Linked DNA regions of Homo sapiens. The protein of the gene in region 2 purifies or fractionates together with the protein of the main gene of each other region. This does not show direct contact. Each region holds a gene or a part of one and is shown on either strand. Other genes may lie near its edges.

Region 1 (3,815 bases), about 31 Mb from region 2:
CTGAAGAGCCACTTATTGTCACCTCAGCTCTAACTAAAGACTAATATGAAAAGTATCATTTAACAGACAGATAGTATGGCTTCAAGAGTTTGGGGCTTGAGAATCAGAAGCATCTGACTCAAATCCTTGCTGTGACAATTAAAACTGGGGGACCTGCTGAATGTTAAGCCTTATGCTCTTTGAGTATCAGCTTTTTTTTCTTTTCTAAAGCTCAAGGCCAAGTGCAATGACTCACGTCTGTAATCCCAGAGCTTTGGGAAGCTGAAGCAAGAGGATTGTTTGAGGGCAGGAGTTCAAGATGAGCCTGGGCAACATGGGAGACCCTGTGCTACAAAAATACTTTTTAAATTAGCTGGACATCATGATGTGCACCTGTAGTCCTAGCTACATGGGAGGCTGAGGCAGGAGGATCGTTTGAGCCCTGGAGTTTGAGATTATAGTGAGCCATGATCCTACCACTGCACTCCAGCCTGGACAACAGAACAAGACTGTCTCCAAAGAAAATAAAAATAAAGTGTACAACTGTGATTGAAATTCAATTAGATAAAATATTTATCTAGAAGAGTGCTGGCGCCTTTATAGTCGGCTAGCAAAAAAGGGTAACTATCACCATCTATCATCCTGATTTTTTCTTTTTTTAGAGATGGGGTCTTGCTATGTTGCCTAGGCTGGAGAGCAGTGGATATTCACCAGCGTGATCCCACTATTGATGAGCATGGGAGTTTTGACCTGCTCCATTTCTGTCTTGGTTTACCCCTCCTTAGGCAACCTGGTGGTCCCCAGCTCCTGGGAGGCCACCATACTGATGCCAAACTTAGTGCAGATACTTGATCAGGGTAGCGCATTACAGCCCAGAACTCCTGGACTCAAGCAATCCTTCTGCCTCAGCCTCCCCAGTAGCTGGGACCACAGGCACTCGCCACCATGCCCAGCACCATGACTAATACTAACACATGGCCATGCCCTCAGCCATTGCTTATTATGGCAGAAAAGATCTAAGATGCCACATGATAAACTGCTCTTTCAGGGAAAGAAGTCTTCCCTAAGGAACTACTAAACTTATTTTTACTCATCTAGGAGAAAATATTGAAACCCTGTCTGCCTAAAAAATACCAGAGCTTCTTGGGGAATCTAGCCCACGTTGCTAAAAAGTGACACGAAGAATCAGCATCTGATGTCAGAGGTATTCACCAAGATTCAACTGATGGGGAAGTTCTCCCTGTTTCCCAGCTCACTACAGCTCCAAGCGGGTGAGGGCCAGTGTACACAGGGATGTACCTGGAGCTTGGGGGTGGGGAGAGAAACCAACAGAACCAGTCCCAATCTTTGAGGAGCCCCCAATCTTGAGGGAAGGAATAAAGTTCCTGTCTTCAGGGAGACCCCCATCTGATGGCAGAGACATAGTCCATGCCACTAGAGACTCTCTAGTATGATTGGACAGACAAAAAGGACCAAAACAGGATGCTGTGCCTGGCCTTTTCTGCTAAGAGGTTCAGAGCTAAATTCAACGGTCAATGCAGGAAGCACTTTATCACACCCTCTTCATATAATGATCTCTTCCCTTTCTTCGTGTGGCTTCTGATCATTATTATTTCATTTAACAGTCCTACTGAATACAAGTTTTCATTGTAATGTGCTACATCATCCTTTTTTAAATAGTAGAAACAGACTGGGTGTGGTGGCTCATATCTGTAATCCTAGCATTTTGGGAGGCCGAGGTGGGTGAATTGCTTGAGGCCAGGATTTCGAGAACAACTTGTCCAACATGGCAAAACCCTATATCTACTAGAAATACAAAAATTGTCCGGGCATGGAGGCACATGCCTTTAGCCCCAGCTACTCAAGAGGCTGAGGCACAAGAATTGAAGATAGTGGTAGTGGGTTGGAGCTCCTTAGGGATCAGAGTTTTGCTCCAATAACAGGCCCACAGGTCAGGGCTGGCTGTAACAGGCTCCTCTGCCCAGGCCTGGGTCTACATGTAAGACAAGTACTTATTACCCGTATGTTTTTGTTGTTGTTGTTTTGTTTTGTTTTGTTTTGTTTTGTGTTTTTGAGATGGAGTCTCGCTCTGTCTCCCAGGCAGGAGCGCAGTGGCGTGATCTCGGCTCACCACAACTGTAGCTGGGACTACAGGCACGTGCCATCATGCCCGGCTACTTTTTGTATTTTTAGTAGAGATGGGGTTTCACCATATTGGCTAGGCTGTTCTCAAACTCCTGACCTAGTGATCTGCCCACCTCGGCCTCCCAAAGTGCTGGGATTACAGGCATGAGCCACCGTGCCTGACCTATTACCCATATTTAAAAGACTTGTTCAAAAGACAAATTCCCAGGGCCCCTTCCCAGCCCTCTTATGCCAGAATTCCCAGGGGGTTTGGCCTGAGAAACTACAGGCTTAAACAAGGGCCCTCATATGATTCCCATCATCAGGGAAATGGGGAAACATCAGGCCCAGCTCTTCTCTGAGCATGGTGAGAGGACTATCAGAATCAACTAGAGGAGCTTCATAAAATGCAGATTCCTGGGCTCTCCACCCAGGACCACTGAATCAGAATTTCTGGGAGAAGGCCCTGGAATATGCATTTTTACAGGAACCCAAGGTGATCTCTATGGGCTGGATGTTTCCTTGCAGGCCCTCCTGCAGTGTGAGCTACTGGTCACAAGGGGCCAGGTCAGAGTATCTGCTCACAGTAAGCTTTGCGTGGCAGGGTGGAGGGAGACGATTCACATCTCTAGCCTTCTTCTTTAGACAGTCAAGCAGCAAAGATCCCTTAATTCCACAGCTCTATGTTGTGGAGTTCTCCGAAGTTTTTACATATGACCTTCCCTCAGAAGCACTGAAGTTCAGACGGAGGGCATCTTACCATCTCCTGGGGCCTTTTGCACGGTGGAACCAAAGCTTCTCAAAGGCCTTTGGTTCCACATCTCAGTCTCTGCTGTCCTGTTGCTCTGTCCCCTCAGCACACTCCATTACAGGGCCAGCCTTTGGGGCAAGTGATCTAGGCCTAGACCAGGCGGCATAGCTTGAAGGATGTGAAAATCAACCCATTATGGTTGACATGGTTCTACTTCTGGGATCTCCATATATGACTATCTCAATTTTAGCCATAAGTGGAAGACAAGGCAAAGTGCCTAGTGGGGGCAGATCAGTTCTACCAGAAATATATTAATACATAGCAAGGGGGTCACTTTTTTTTTTGGAGACAGAGTGCTGCTCTGTCACCCAGGCTGGAGTGCAGTGGTGCAATCCCGACTCACTGCAACCTTCAGCTCTGGGCTCAATCAATCCTCCTACCTTGGCCTCCCAAGTAGCTAGGACCATAGGCATGCTCCACCACACCCAGCTAATTTTTTAATTATTATTATTATTTTTTTGAGACGGAGTCTCACTCTGTCACCCAGGCTGGAGTGCAGTGGCACAATCTCAGCTCACTGCAACCTCTCCCTCCCGGGTTCAAGCAATTCTCCTGCCTCAGCCTCCCGAGTGGCTGGGACCACAGGCGGGTGCCACCATGCCCAGCTAATTTTTTGTATTTTTAGTAGAGACGGGGTTCCACTGTGTTAGCCAGAATGGTCTCGATTTCCTGACCTCGTGATCCACCCACCTCGGCCTCCCAAAGTGCTGGGATTACAGGCATGAGCCACTGCACCCGGCCTAATTTTTAAATTGTTTGTAGAGACAGGGTCTTGCTATGTTGCCCAGGCTAGTCTTGAACCCCTTGCATCAAGTAATCTTCTCGCCTCAGCCTCTCAAGTAGCTGGGACCACAGGCATGTGCCACCACACCCAGCTAATTTTTAAATTTTTTGTAGAGAT
Region 2 (3,815 bases):
ACCCTCTGCCCTGGTTTGGTTTCTTCTCCCAAGCCAGAGTTGCAAGCAACCGCTGGCTACCATCACGCTGAAGGTAGGGGAGTGAGTTCGGTAGCTCACCCAGCCTGAGAACTGTCAGGGAGCTGCAGTGGGGAATCACTGCCCACAAGATCAGCGAGGGAGGAAAGCAGACGCTTGGGAAGACTCCATCCAGGGCCCTGTGTCCCCAAGCCGTGCACTGCACCGGCTGCAAAGCCCAGGCTGCCAGGGAAAACACACACAGGCCAACTCCCAGGAGGCGCCCAGAGATGCTTCCTACCTGAAGAAAAGGCGGAGGGAGCGCATGTGGCCCAGGTCCACGCGGAACACGCCGCAAATCTGCTCCAGGGCGCACACCCGCTGCGGCTCGTCCCAGCGTGGGGTCTGCAGGAGGCCGTTGCTGTCCGGGAACCGCAGGCCGGCGTCGGAGCTGGACGGGGGGCTGGTGGAACAGGTTATGTGATGATCGCCACACTTCTCCCTGCCCACACTACCCAGAGGGGGACGGGGGTCATGGGGGAGTCATTTAAACCTACGCACCAAGCTTAAACACACATACAGGCACGGCTGAATATGCCCTGTAAACACCTGTGAATAAATGAATGTATGAACCCCACTGCACAGTTCTACTTCCACTTGGATGGGAAAGCATTTTCATGATCAAATTCCATTCCACTTCAATAGAGGCAGTAAGTCATCATCGTCCTGACAGCCAAGGTCACACTGACTGGGGTTCCTCGCTGTGTGACCTTGGCCAAGCCACCAAGCCTCTCTCAGCCTTCGTTTTCCCATGGATAAAGAAGGCAGGAGAATAACAAGGCTGGGTTTCCCTACAGCGTGGGGCTGGGCTTTACTAAAACTGGTTGTTTTGGGATGATTTTAGATAGCATGGGGCTTCCGCGTGGTTTAAACCAGCTCACTGTATTCCTGAAAAGTACTGGTTCAGTTTATGCTTTTGGTTAGGAAACATTTGGGTTCTCAGTACTATTAATAACATCATCAGCATTTATTAAAACACTGACTATGGGCCTGGCCCTGAGCTAATGCTTCTCAGGTGCTTTTATTGCAATTAATCTTCACAAAAATCCTCTGAAATGAATAGTGGTATTACCCCATTGTAAAGAAGAGGCAACTGGGGCCCAGAGAGGTTAAGTAATTTGCCCAAGGTCACACAGCTGGCAAGTGGTAGAGCTGAGATTAGAACCCAAGCTTTGTGGCCCATGTTCTCACCAGCATACTGTGCAGCTGTCTGCAGTTCAGCAGTACAACCCCATTTATTCTGTTATTTTTTATGAGTTTGTTACATTCCAAATTGCAAAATATCTTATTATATGGATTCAGCCACCTCACAGGTTAAATCTTGTCTCTTGAGATTTTTTCTTTTTTTCTTTTTTCTTTTTTTTTTCTTTTTTTGAGACGGAGTCTCGCTCTGTCACCCAGGCTGGAGTGCAGTGTGCGATCTCGGCTCACTGCCACTTCTGCCTTCCGGGTTCAAGCGATTCTCCTGCCTCAGCCTCCTGAGTAGCTGAGATTACAGACGTCCACCACCATGACCAGCTAATTCTATATATTTAGTAGAGACGAGGTTTCACCATGTTGACCAGGCTAGTCTTGACCTCCTGACCTCAGGTGATCCACCCGCCTCAGCCTCCAAAAGTGTTGGGATTACAGGCGTGAGCCATCGCGCCTGACACTCTCTTGAGATTTAATGTCTAGCAAATGTCTGCTAAAATAAAACCGGAGTACAGGCAAGACTCAGCTCTGGACCCCAACTGCAGCACCCCACAGAGACTCAGCCGCATTCACCGCACCTGCCTTCCCGTTTGAGCTCAGAACATAAACTATTAGAGGCAATCAATCCAGAGGCACTTCCTCCTCCAAGAAGCACCAGGTCTAAGTAAATAAAGCTCCTTTGGAGGGTTCCAGCACAATCCCTCCCCACTGGGAACTTCACACAGAGAAACCTGACTGGCCTTTCTAGAGCCCTCTACTGCGTCAGGCATAGCCCTGGGCCTGGTGAGTGGCAGGTGGCCTTTCTTCCCCACCTGCCTAAGGAAGTCAGCCGAACAGGTCCTCCCACTGCTGGGGCCCCTGGGCTCTCAAGGAAACTGAGTCAGGTAAAACTAGATCAGAGATGGGCATGTGGGGCCATCACCTGAACTGCCGTGGCTGCGCCGCGGACGGGCCCAGAAGACCGAGGGCTCCTGACATCTTCCCAAGTGGACCCTGCGGGAGCTGCGCTTCAGAATCGTTGCTCACAACACAGGGCAGGTCTCGAGTCTGAGGCCCCACCGCACCCATGGGTGCCCCCTTCTGTCATCTGCTCATTGAACCGCGGGGCTGCTGTGACTGTGAGAGCTGCTGCCCCGTGTGCTGCCTGCTGGCCCGGCCCACCCAGTGGGGCCATCAGAGGGTGGTATCCTTTCCCGCCTCCTCCCCCAGCCTTCTTACCACACCCAACAGCAGAATCCCCCAAACCTGCTTGTTCCTCCCAGCACACTGTGGCCCACTCACCCTACAGGGCAGGCCAAGGTTTCCAGAAACCAGACAGAACACAGAGACTCGCTTTGGCAGTCACGGATGGAGGGCCCCCTCCCTGCTGCCGTGGCCACAGAAGACTGGTCCCCTGGAGGGCCGGAGCCGATTTCAAACCAGGCAAGAGTCCAGGACACAGGGGCCACCACACACCTCCCCCAGCAACGTGCCTCCAGGCAGGAGTTGGCTTAAACCCTCTCGCAACCCCTTAGGGGCAAATTATTTGCATTAATTAATGGATTGATTCATTAATTCAAGATACTGTGCTTGGGACCTACAGCTGGGGTTCCATAAGCTCAAACTAGAGCGAAGGTGATGGAGACCTCAGTTCGCTTTCATTGGGGTACGTCTGGCAGGTACCCCAGGCCCTGTGTGGTCATGGAGGACGAGGTCTGGTGCCCCTCGAGGCCGGCTGCTGTGGGGTGGGGGTTGCATCGTGTCTCTTCATCTTCAGCTCCCAGCCCTGGCTTGGCGCAGAACACACAGACATTTAATACTCATGCCTGAAGTGAAAATGTAAAGTGTCTGGGAATTTTGAAGTCACAGAAAAAAATGTTTAAAGAAAATAAACTACAGGGAAAACGAAATATGTACAGTGTTTTATTTTTGCTTATCTTTCTACACACGTAAAGCAATTTAGTTTTAAGAATATTCATATATGCTGCAAATAATTTAGCTTGTTCATAAAATTATGTGATGCATTGGAACTAAAAGGATGGGTTTTGCAGGCGATAACTCCCAAGATGCTATTACATTAGAAAGATCTCACACATAAAACTAGAAGACGCTAAACTTTAAGAAATGTAGCAGTTCTTCATTTCTATCATTTTCTGAAGATCACCCAAATGTAAAAGCAGTAATGAAAAAAAGTCAGCACTATCACTGGAAAACAAACACAAACACTGGGTTCTCCCTCCACCACAGTAAACTATGCCATGTCAGATACAGAGATAGAGATTTAAAAGGGCCTCAAATTCTTCACAGCTCATCTTATCAAGGATAGCACCTGTCTCTCCACCCCTGAATCTAGGTGGGCCTTTTTTGACCAATAGAATGTGGCAAACATGGTGTTAGGTGAGTTCTGGGGCCTAGGCAGCCCCTCACTCTTCCTCTTGGCACAGTGCAGGCAAGACAGACAGACGAGAGCTCATGAGAGAGACACGCAACTGGCAGTCAGCACCAGAGCCCCGACACCTGTCAATGGAGGCCGTTCCAGACCCTCCGCCCACCCAAGCCTCCTGGTGGCTGCAGCGACCTGAGTG

The links.
Region 1: the proteins of TBC1D16 (region 2) and TTLL6 purify together in Homo sapiens (affinity purification with mass spectrometry; one large-scale study listed by BioGRID and IntAct). This does not show direct contact.

What each region holds. Positions count from the first base shown.
Region 1 is NC_000017.11:48,764,915-48,768,729, forward strand, and holds part of TTLL6 (tubulin polyglutamylase TTLL6), read right to left. Parts: intron 934-3,815; exon of another isoform or gene 640-933; intron 1-639. UniProt on the Homo sapiens protein: Polyglutamylase which modifies both tubulin and non-tubulin proteins, generating alpha-linked polyglutamate side chains on the gamma-carboxyl group of specific glutamate residues of target proteins.
Region 2 is NC_000017.11:79,952,359-79,956,173, forward strand, and holds part of TBC1D16 (TBC1 domain family member 16), read right to left. Parts: intron 461-3,815; coding exon 299-460; intron 1-298. UniProt on the Homo sapiens protein: May act as a GTPase-activating protein for Rab family protein(s).